Linked DNA regions of Homo sapiens. The protein of the gene in region 1 interacts with the protein of each later gene in a pairwise test. Each region holds a gene or a part of one and is shown in the gene's direction. Other genes may lie near its edges.

Region 1 (3,750 bases):
TCAGCCTTGGCGATAGAGATCCTGTCTTAAAAAAAAAAAAAAAAATAGGCCGGGAGTGAATACATAGGCTGGGCACGGTGGCTCATGCCTGCAATCCCGAGGCAGGCAGATCATGAGGTCAGGAGTTCCAGACCAGCCTGGCCAACATGGTGAAACCCCATCTCTACTAAAAACACAAAAAGATTATCTGGGTGTGGTGGTGCGCGCCTGTAATCCCAACTACTCCGGAGGCTGAGGCAGGAGAATCACTTGAACCAGCAGGCGGAGGTTGCAGTGAGCTGAGATCTCATCACTGCACTCCAGCCTGGGCGATAGAGCGAGATTGTCTAAAAAAATAATAATAAATAAAATAAAATAAAATAAAATAAATATTGTAGTCCTAGCTACTCGGGAGGCTGAGGTGGCAGCATCACCTGAGCCTGGGAAGTCCAGGCTGCCACGTAATCACGCCACTGCACTCCATCTTGGGTAACAGAGTGAGACCCTGTCTCTAAATAAATAAATAAATAGAATATCCTGTACATAACAACAGTGAGCACTTTCACAGCCCTCATTTTTTCCCAGAATCTTCAGAGATGCAGACGTGCTCATAAAATGTTGTGTACATTTTATTTTTTTAGAATCTGAAAAACTGGGTCAGTGGGCGTTTCATGGGAAGTATAGAATGTTAGCAAAGTATCCTTTCTTAAGTTTTTCTGCGAAAACGGTAATAATGTAAGTATAACAAGGAGCACTTATAGTATTATTTTCCAAAGCCCTTGCTTAGGGAAGGAGCTTCAGTATTAAGTTGTTAAAATCCATACCCAAAGTATTTGTTATGCTTACAAAACTGGAGATGGTTCTGCTTTGATCCTATTTGCGGAAATTTGCATGCATTTAACAGAGGAAAACGTGGTCTCCTGCTCTATTAAGTTTGTCTGACTACTTTTAATAAGGCGAATTCACCTAAACTCTGTTCTAGGGTGTGAACACAATTACTTGCCCTGAAAATACTCAGTTTGACTTTTAAAGAGCTAAAGTGGTAACAGGTGGGGAGAGGGCTAGGCCAAATTGTTTGAGGGGGTGTGGAACTGTGGAATTTGAGTGAAGAGAAGGCCCAACTTTTTTTAAAAAAAGAGCGGGGCGAAATAACTTGGGGCACAACAGTATGTCTATTTTGTAGGCATCCCTCTTCCCCAGGGCAACTGGAGCCCAAAAAGTGGGTGAGAAAGCCATTCCAGGGCAGCCAGCACTTCCAGAAGTTTAAGGTCAGGATGCCGGAGCTCAGGGGAATGCCGATGCGCCGGGCAGGCTGTGCCTGGGCAGTTCATTCTGTGGCAGCTGGAGGCACTACTCGGCCGCCGCGGTGCGAACTGCGGGCACTGTGGGGCGGAGACCTAGGGGCGGGTCAACAAAGGTCGGGCGATTGTGTCTGGAGGCAAATCCGACGTAGACGGCGGCAGGCGGAGCCCAAAGCCGGTGATGCAGGGTGCGCAGGGATCCCACCTGGAGAGTCGGGGCGGCACGTTGAGACCCCAGGGGTGAAGGGCGGGGGATCCCAATCCCAGCCCTGTTTTCCCCTCCCCTTTCCCCGCCTCCTTCTCGCCCCTCCCCCCTCCTCCCCTCTGGTTGGAAAGTTTCTAGAATCTCTTCCCAGCGGCCTTTGCGGTTCCAACATGGCGGAGCTGACGGTGGAGGTTCGCGGCTCTAACGGGGCTTTCTACAAGGTACTGACCGTTTTGCCACTTTGTCGAGTGTTCTGGGTGCTGGAGCGCGTTTGAGGGAGGGTTGGTGGTCCCAGAGAGTGAGGTTTGGGGTCGGAAAGGCAGCCAGGCCAAAGCTCGAGGCCGCTGGATTCCTTGCTTCTCCCCCCTCCACCCGCGGTTTAACGGTCTCGGGGGCCGGGGCTCCGTTATGTTTTGAAACAACACGTCGGACACCTCTTGCATTTTCCTAGTTATGAACCCTCTTGGTTGCTAGTGCGGTTCTTGGCGGGCCGGTGGGAAGCAACTGAGTGGCTGCTGGGCGGCGGGAGCTCCTTCGGAGCAGGCCCGAGCTCTGGGAGGTGGGGGAGTCGTGAAAGGAGGCGGTGGGATTGTGTGGTCTCACCCGCTCCCCCGCCCCTCGAACTGGGCCGGGCGGGAGCTCCTCAGCCCGCTCCTCCGACCCCTCCCCACCCCTTGGGGCGGGTGTATCGCGGAATCTTTGGAATTCACCCTTGTATTTGAGTTTTGGGCCAACAAATCTTTAGTGTCTGAGGAGAATGGGGGTACCGGATTGAGGGTTAGGATCAAATACAGAAAAGCAGAAAACCTTGAATTGTGGCGGGTTGGAATATTTTTGCGGCCTGGGAAATTGGGCGGCGCCTTAGCCCCTCTATTACGGAAGAAAAGGAGAGTTGTGAGCTTTAAAGTAAGATTTAAAATGCGAAATGGATCAGGGAGATAGGTGGAGAGGTGACTAATTTCTTTATATCACTGCCCCTGTTTTTGGAGGGAGGTTTTGTTTTGTTTTGTTTTTTCTCCCACGAGGTTTTTTGTTTGTTTGCTTGGGAGGAAGGACATCCATTACTATGGAATCGGGGCTGAAAAACGTAAGAGGAATAGAGTAGAGGAATTTGGTGGGGCATTCAGCGTTCACATATCTGAAAATGAAATCCTAATAGTTTATTTTTTGCCACTATAGCGTTCTTTTCTCCTTATTTTCCCGAAATACGCCAGGTTGTTAGAAGATCAATACAGAATCTCCCCAGCTGTTGTCTGTCAGTCAATCTCACTAAGCCAGCATCTCAAATGTTTGAGAGTCTTGGCTATTTTTATGAAGGGCCTTCTTCTAATACATGAGTATTGTGCGTATGCAAAGTGAATTCTCACAGGTTTTCATTTCAGCGTACCTTTTATCCTATGGGTTTTTATTTTATTTGGCCACGATTTTCTATTTTCAGCATTTTGATTTTCTTTTCTTAGTTTACTGATTAGCTCTGTGGATTTGGTTTAACTGTCACGTGGTACCAGCATAATGGGGAATCACAGCGTATAAAGGATCCCCCTAAGCTTTTTGCAAGTTTAAATCTCCTTAGGTGGTAAACTTAAAGTAGGAACAGTGCCTGTTGGAAATGAGACTTTATGTTAATGCGTGAGTAGTTAACATTGACGTTCTCGGTTTAAGACTTGATGTCAGACCAATGACCTAGGTGAAATTTGAGTACATAGTTAATTGACTTTTGTTGTTATTGAAACCTGGTGGTTGCTTTCCCTGGACTACTGCAGATACAGTTCGCTGGGTAAGACGGCGAAAAGAATAGACTTATCTATGTTTTTCCTATCAATTGTAGATAAGTCGTTTTGCATCACCCCCCACCCCTTTCCCGAAAAGTTTTAAATTCTCACTATTTGGCCCTGTAGTTCTTGTATAAGGGAGGTATGCATTTTTTCTTGCATATTGGAAAAAATAAAGTGATTATTTTGCTTTATTTCATGGTTCTGCATCATGCATGTGGTAGACAACTATTTTTAGCAAAGTATATTTGTCAATAGCCTGCTATGCAAGATATTTTTTCCTTTTTTTAATAAGGTGAAGGTAATTTTAGTAAAGATTGTTTGCAGTCTTACTTTGGTTTCTCACGGTATTTTTTTTTTCCAGTCAATTCACAATGAATCAAATGTCCCCATTTTGGAACTCTGAAGTATTTATAATTGATCTCTATACATATCTACAATCTACTGCTTGTTTCTACTTAGACTTTGACTCCATTACTCATTTTGCCTCACA
Region 2 (3,750 bases), on another chromosome or scaffold:
TTCTTTTCTAGATATTTAGCCCTCAGAATCTCATGATCCCAATGTTCCTACACACACACCCCATCCTTCTTTCCCACAGCCATGTAGCTTTCCTCATACTCTTTTATAGAGGGGTGGTGCCACCTTCCAAGTCCTTGTCTTCTGCAGCTATTTGGATGCCTTCCTCTACCCAGATATCTGACACCAACTTCTCTGTTTTTCTCCTGCCAATTTTGCGGCACCTCTACCTTATTTTCCTGAAGTAGATGGAGAGCTCCTTCATCTTTCTCTGCCCCCAAACGTGTACCTTCTCTGTCATATAATTCCCATCCCTGAACCTCTGCATTTCTTCCCCCAAGTCTCCAGAGCCTTCTGTGATGTGATCCTCTCCTCTTTTCCCCTTTGTATAAATGCTTGTCTTGTGTTCCTTTAGAGTTGCCAGGTGTCTCACTTTCAACTGTGATCTCCTGAAGGCCGGTAGGGTCCCCTTCTCACTTTGTGGACTCTCTTCTTGCCATTTTAGGCCTCTGCTTCCAAATGCATAGAGCCTCCCTTACTGTTTCTGTGTGTCTCTGTCCTCCAGATGTACGGGGACCCTCTATGCACCGAACCCAATACGTTCATTCCCCGTATGATCGTCCTGGTTGGAACCCTCGGTTCTGCATCATCTCGGGGAACCAGCTGCTCATGCTGGATGAGGATGAGGTGAGTGTGGTGAGAAGGCTGGGAAAACGCATGTGGGAGAATGGGGAGAGTCCTCATTAGTGAAGGGGAGAGAGACACAAAGAAGGCAGACAAAGAAGAAACATTTGCAAATGGCAGGAGGGTGGCCATTGAGACTTGGGTTGGAGTGTGACAAGAGGGGTAGTCATTCTCTCATCTTGGGCAGGGAGTCTTTGAGGGTTATGAGCTGTGTTGGGGAGGAGATGTGGTTCTGAAGATTTCGGGGGTGGGGAGGCTCCTGTTTTCACACTGTCCATATTGTAGGATAGGTTAGAATGGGGAAGGGGAACTGAAGGGTTTGGAGAAGGGGTGAAGACATGGAAGGCCCTCCCAACCAAAGCAATCCTCAGGACCCCTCTCTGCTTTGCCCACTGAGCAAGACTCCCAGTCCTTTCTCCATCAGGGGGCAGAGTGCAAGAAGAGAAATTGCAGGACGCAGAGAAAAGGCAGGGGATAGAGGAGGTTTTAGGTAGCTGGAGGATACTGGGAAAGAAGACTGAGGTCAGTGGATCTTGGCATGATGGGGTGAAGACTGGGAGAGTGATTGAGATCAAGGTTTAGAGAGACACTGAGAGGGCTTCTGCAAGGGAGTGGTTGGACATCAGGAAGGAATATAAGGGAGGGGAACTGGGAGTATGTGGAGTTATCTAAAGGAGTACAAGTGGAGTAGGGGCAGGGACTAGCCAGAGTAAAGGAGATGAAACGGACAGAGGCCTCTTATGGGAGGTGGTGGCCAGGTATGGAGATCTGAGAGCCAGGGAAGTGTGGGTTCTGATTTGGGAGCTGGGTCAGCAGGAGTGTCCATTGGAGGAAATAGAGGATAAAAACTGGAATGGTGCCCCACAAGTGTGAGTCAGGGAATGGGGGTGATTTGGGGGACAAGCTTTAAAAAATGGTAGGGTAGCCTGGAAAACCAAACGTGGTGAGAGATGGACCCTGAAAGTTATTGGGAATGGTGTGATGAGGAAGGGTTAGAATTTGAGTCAGGGCTAACTAGAGTGTCAAGGGACCTATGGGGGCAGGTGAGAGTGTGGAGAGATGGCTGGGTAGACAGCTTCCAGGCCACAGAGTAAAGTAGAGGTGTTAAGGAGAGGATATGGTGACTTTGAAAGGAGAGGTGGCTTGGGGAGTCTAAGTTTTGGACACCATTGGGAGACATTTGAGTGACTGTGGTCAAACCCCTAGATCAAGGTTTGGAGTCTGTAGGAGAAATGGGGGAAACTGGAACCCAGAGTGGGGACTGTTATAGGGATGAAGAGGGAAGACAATGGATTGGGGTAATGAAGGAATGACAGAGATAGGGACAGACTGAAGGGACCAGTGGCCAGCAAGTTGAGGGGCAATAGGAATGGCCGGTCTGGAGCAGGAAGGGCGTGTGTGTGGGAGGAGGAGTAGATAGAATTGGGAAAATGAGCAGCCTGAACAGACGCAGGGAGTTGGAATTGGATGGGTGGTGGAACTGGGGCTGGGGGATAGTGAGGGGTCTGTTCCTGTGGCTCTTTGTAGAGGTGGAGGAGACTGCAGGGGTGGAGGTGTATGGAGGTAGGGATGGAGGTGGACAGGGGGAGCTGGGTGTGAAGCTTAGGGAAAGGTGATGGCTGAGGGGAAGAAGGGAACTGAGAGATGCTGGGTCGGGTGATGGAAGGAGATGAAAGGTGGGGGAAGGTGACCAGGCCCTCTGGCGGGAGGGGAGGTTGGGTCCCAGTCTGGCCGCAAGCCGGGCCGTGGGAGGGAGACAAGCTGTGGATCCTGATTATAAATGCAGCTTCTGCTACCCCCGTGACAGGCTCGGAGGGAGAGAAGGGGGTAAGGGAGGTGGGAGGTTGGGAGGAAAGCAGGGAGAATGGAGGAACTGAAGGTCAAGGGAAAACTGGATTCAGGAAGTAGCTAACTTCTGAGGAGTTGCAGAAGAGCTGAGTAGGGTTTGGGAGAATTCTCCGGAAGGTGTTTCAAGACAAATGGAGGGAGAAAAGAGGGTGGGACGGCAAAGAATGAGAGAGAGAGACTGGGGGAGAGAAGGGAGAGATCCAGTCACCAAGTGTGGAGGGGCCGGGGCAGAAAAAGTGGGCAGGCTTAGGGGGAAAAGGAGGCCCGCCCTTCCTGGGAGGAGGCGGAGGGGGGAAGAGGGAGGGGAGGGGCGGCGTGGGCCAGGGAGGTCTGACACACCCCCACCTCCCCTAGATACACCCCCTACTGATCCGGGACCGGAGGAGCGAGTCCAGTCGCAACAAACTGCTGAGACGCACAGTCTCCGTGCCGGTGGAGGGGCGGCCCCACGGCGAGCATGGTACGGCGGCCGAGCAGGCTCTCATGACCCGGACAGGCGCGGGGAGAGGGCTGAAGATGGACCGGGCTGGCGGGGCGGGGGCGTCGGGGAGCGGCGGGAGCTGGCCGGGGGCGGGAGAAGGCGGAGACAAAGTCTTGCTTCCCGAGGGGAGATGGCGCCCTCCTCTGGAAGGTGGAGCGGGACAGGGGCTGTGGGTGAGAGGCCCCTGTGGGTCCTCGCTCGGCTTCGCTCCCTTTCTCCTCTCCAGCAGTGAAGTTTGACTATTTTCCTGGTGCTTGTAAAAATAGTCTCCTTAGATCTTTAGCTTCCAGTCCGTGTGTTCCTGCCCCTGCCCCTCCCAGCCCCTGGTCTGGGATCTTGGAAAGAATGACCTAGTTCCTGCCCTCCCCCCAGACCTCTTCCCCACCCCTATGCTCCTGATTCTTCTTCCGGACCTTCAGTCCTTGAGGTCTCCTTTTATTACCCCCTGTTTTCTCCTCTCATCAGCTGCTTCTATTTTCTGCAATTGTATCACCCTTTCTCTTTCCTCCCTGATTTCTCTTATTTTCTGTACCCCTCTTGATTACCCCGTCCCTCCCCTCTGCTCCCGGCGAAAGTCCATCAGACTCCCATCTCATCTCCTTTCTGTCTGTAGAGCTATCTGCGCGGTCTGTCTCTCCAACTCTCTCCCTCTCTCCATCTGTCTCTTCCCCTCCCTCCCCCTTTCTGCCCCCCCAACCCCCTCTTTAGTCATTTAAAAAAAGATTTTTGTCTTCCTGAGA

What was found. The genes of interacting proteins can lie anywhere in the genome.
Region 2: the proteins of FXR1 (region 1) and SYNGAP1 interact in binary tests that used the Homo sapiens proteins (3 or more experiments, as listed by UniProt).

What each region holds. Positions count from the first base shown.
Region 1 is NC_000003.12:180,911,031-180,914,780, forward strand, and holds the start of FXR1 (RNA-binding protein FXR1), read left to right. Parts: upstream 1-1,639; 5' UTR 1,640-1,655; coding exon 1,656-1,706; intron 1,707-3,621; exon of another isoform or gene 3,622-3,750. UniProt on the Homo sapiens protein: mRNA-binding protein that acts as a regulator of mRNAs translation and/or stability, and which is required for various processes, such as neurogenesis, muscle development and spermatogenesis.
Region 2 is NC_000006.12:33,422,915-33,426,664, forward strand, and holds part of SYNGAP1 (ras/Rap GTPase-activating protein SynGAP), read left to right. Parts: intron 1-562; coding exon 563-684; intron 685-2,883; coding exon 2,884-2,989; intron 2,990-3,750. UniProt on the Homo sapiens protein: Major constituent of the PSD essential for postsynaptic signaling. Inhibitory regulator of the Ras-cAMP pathway.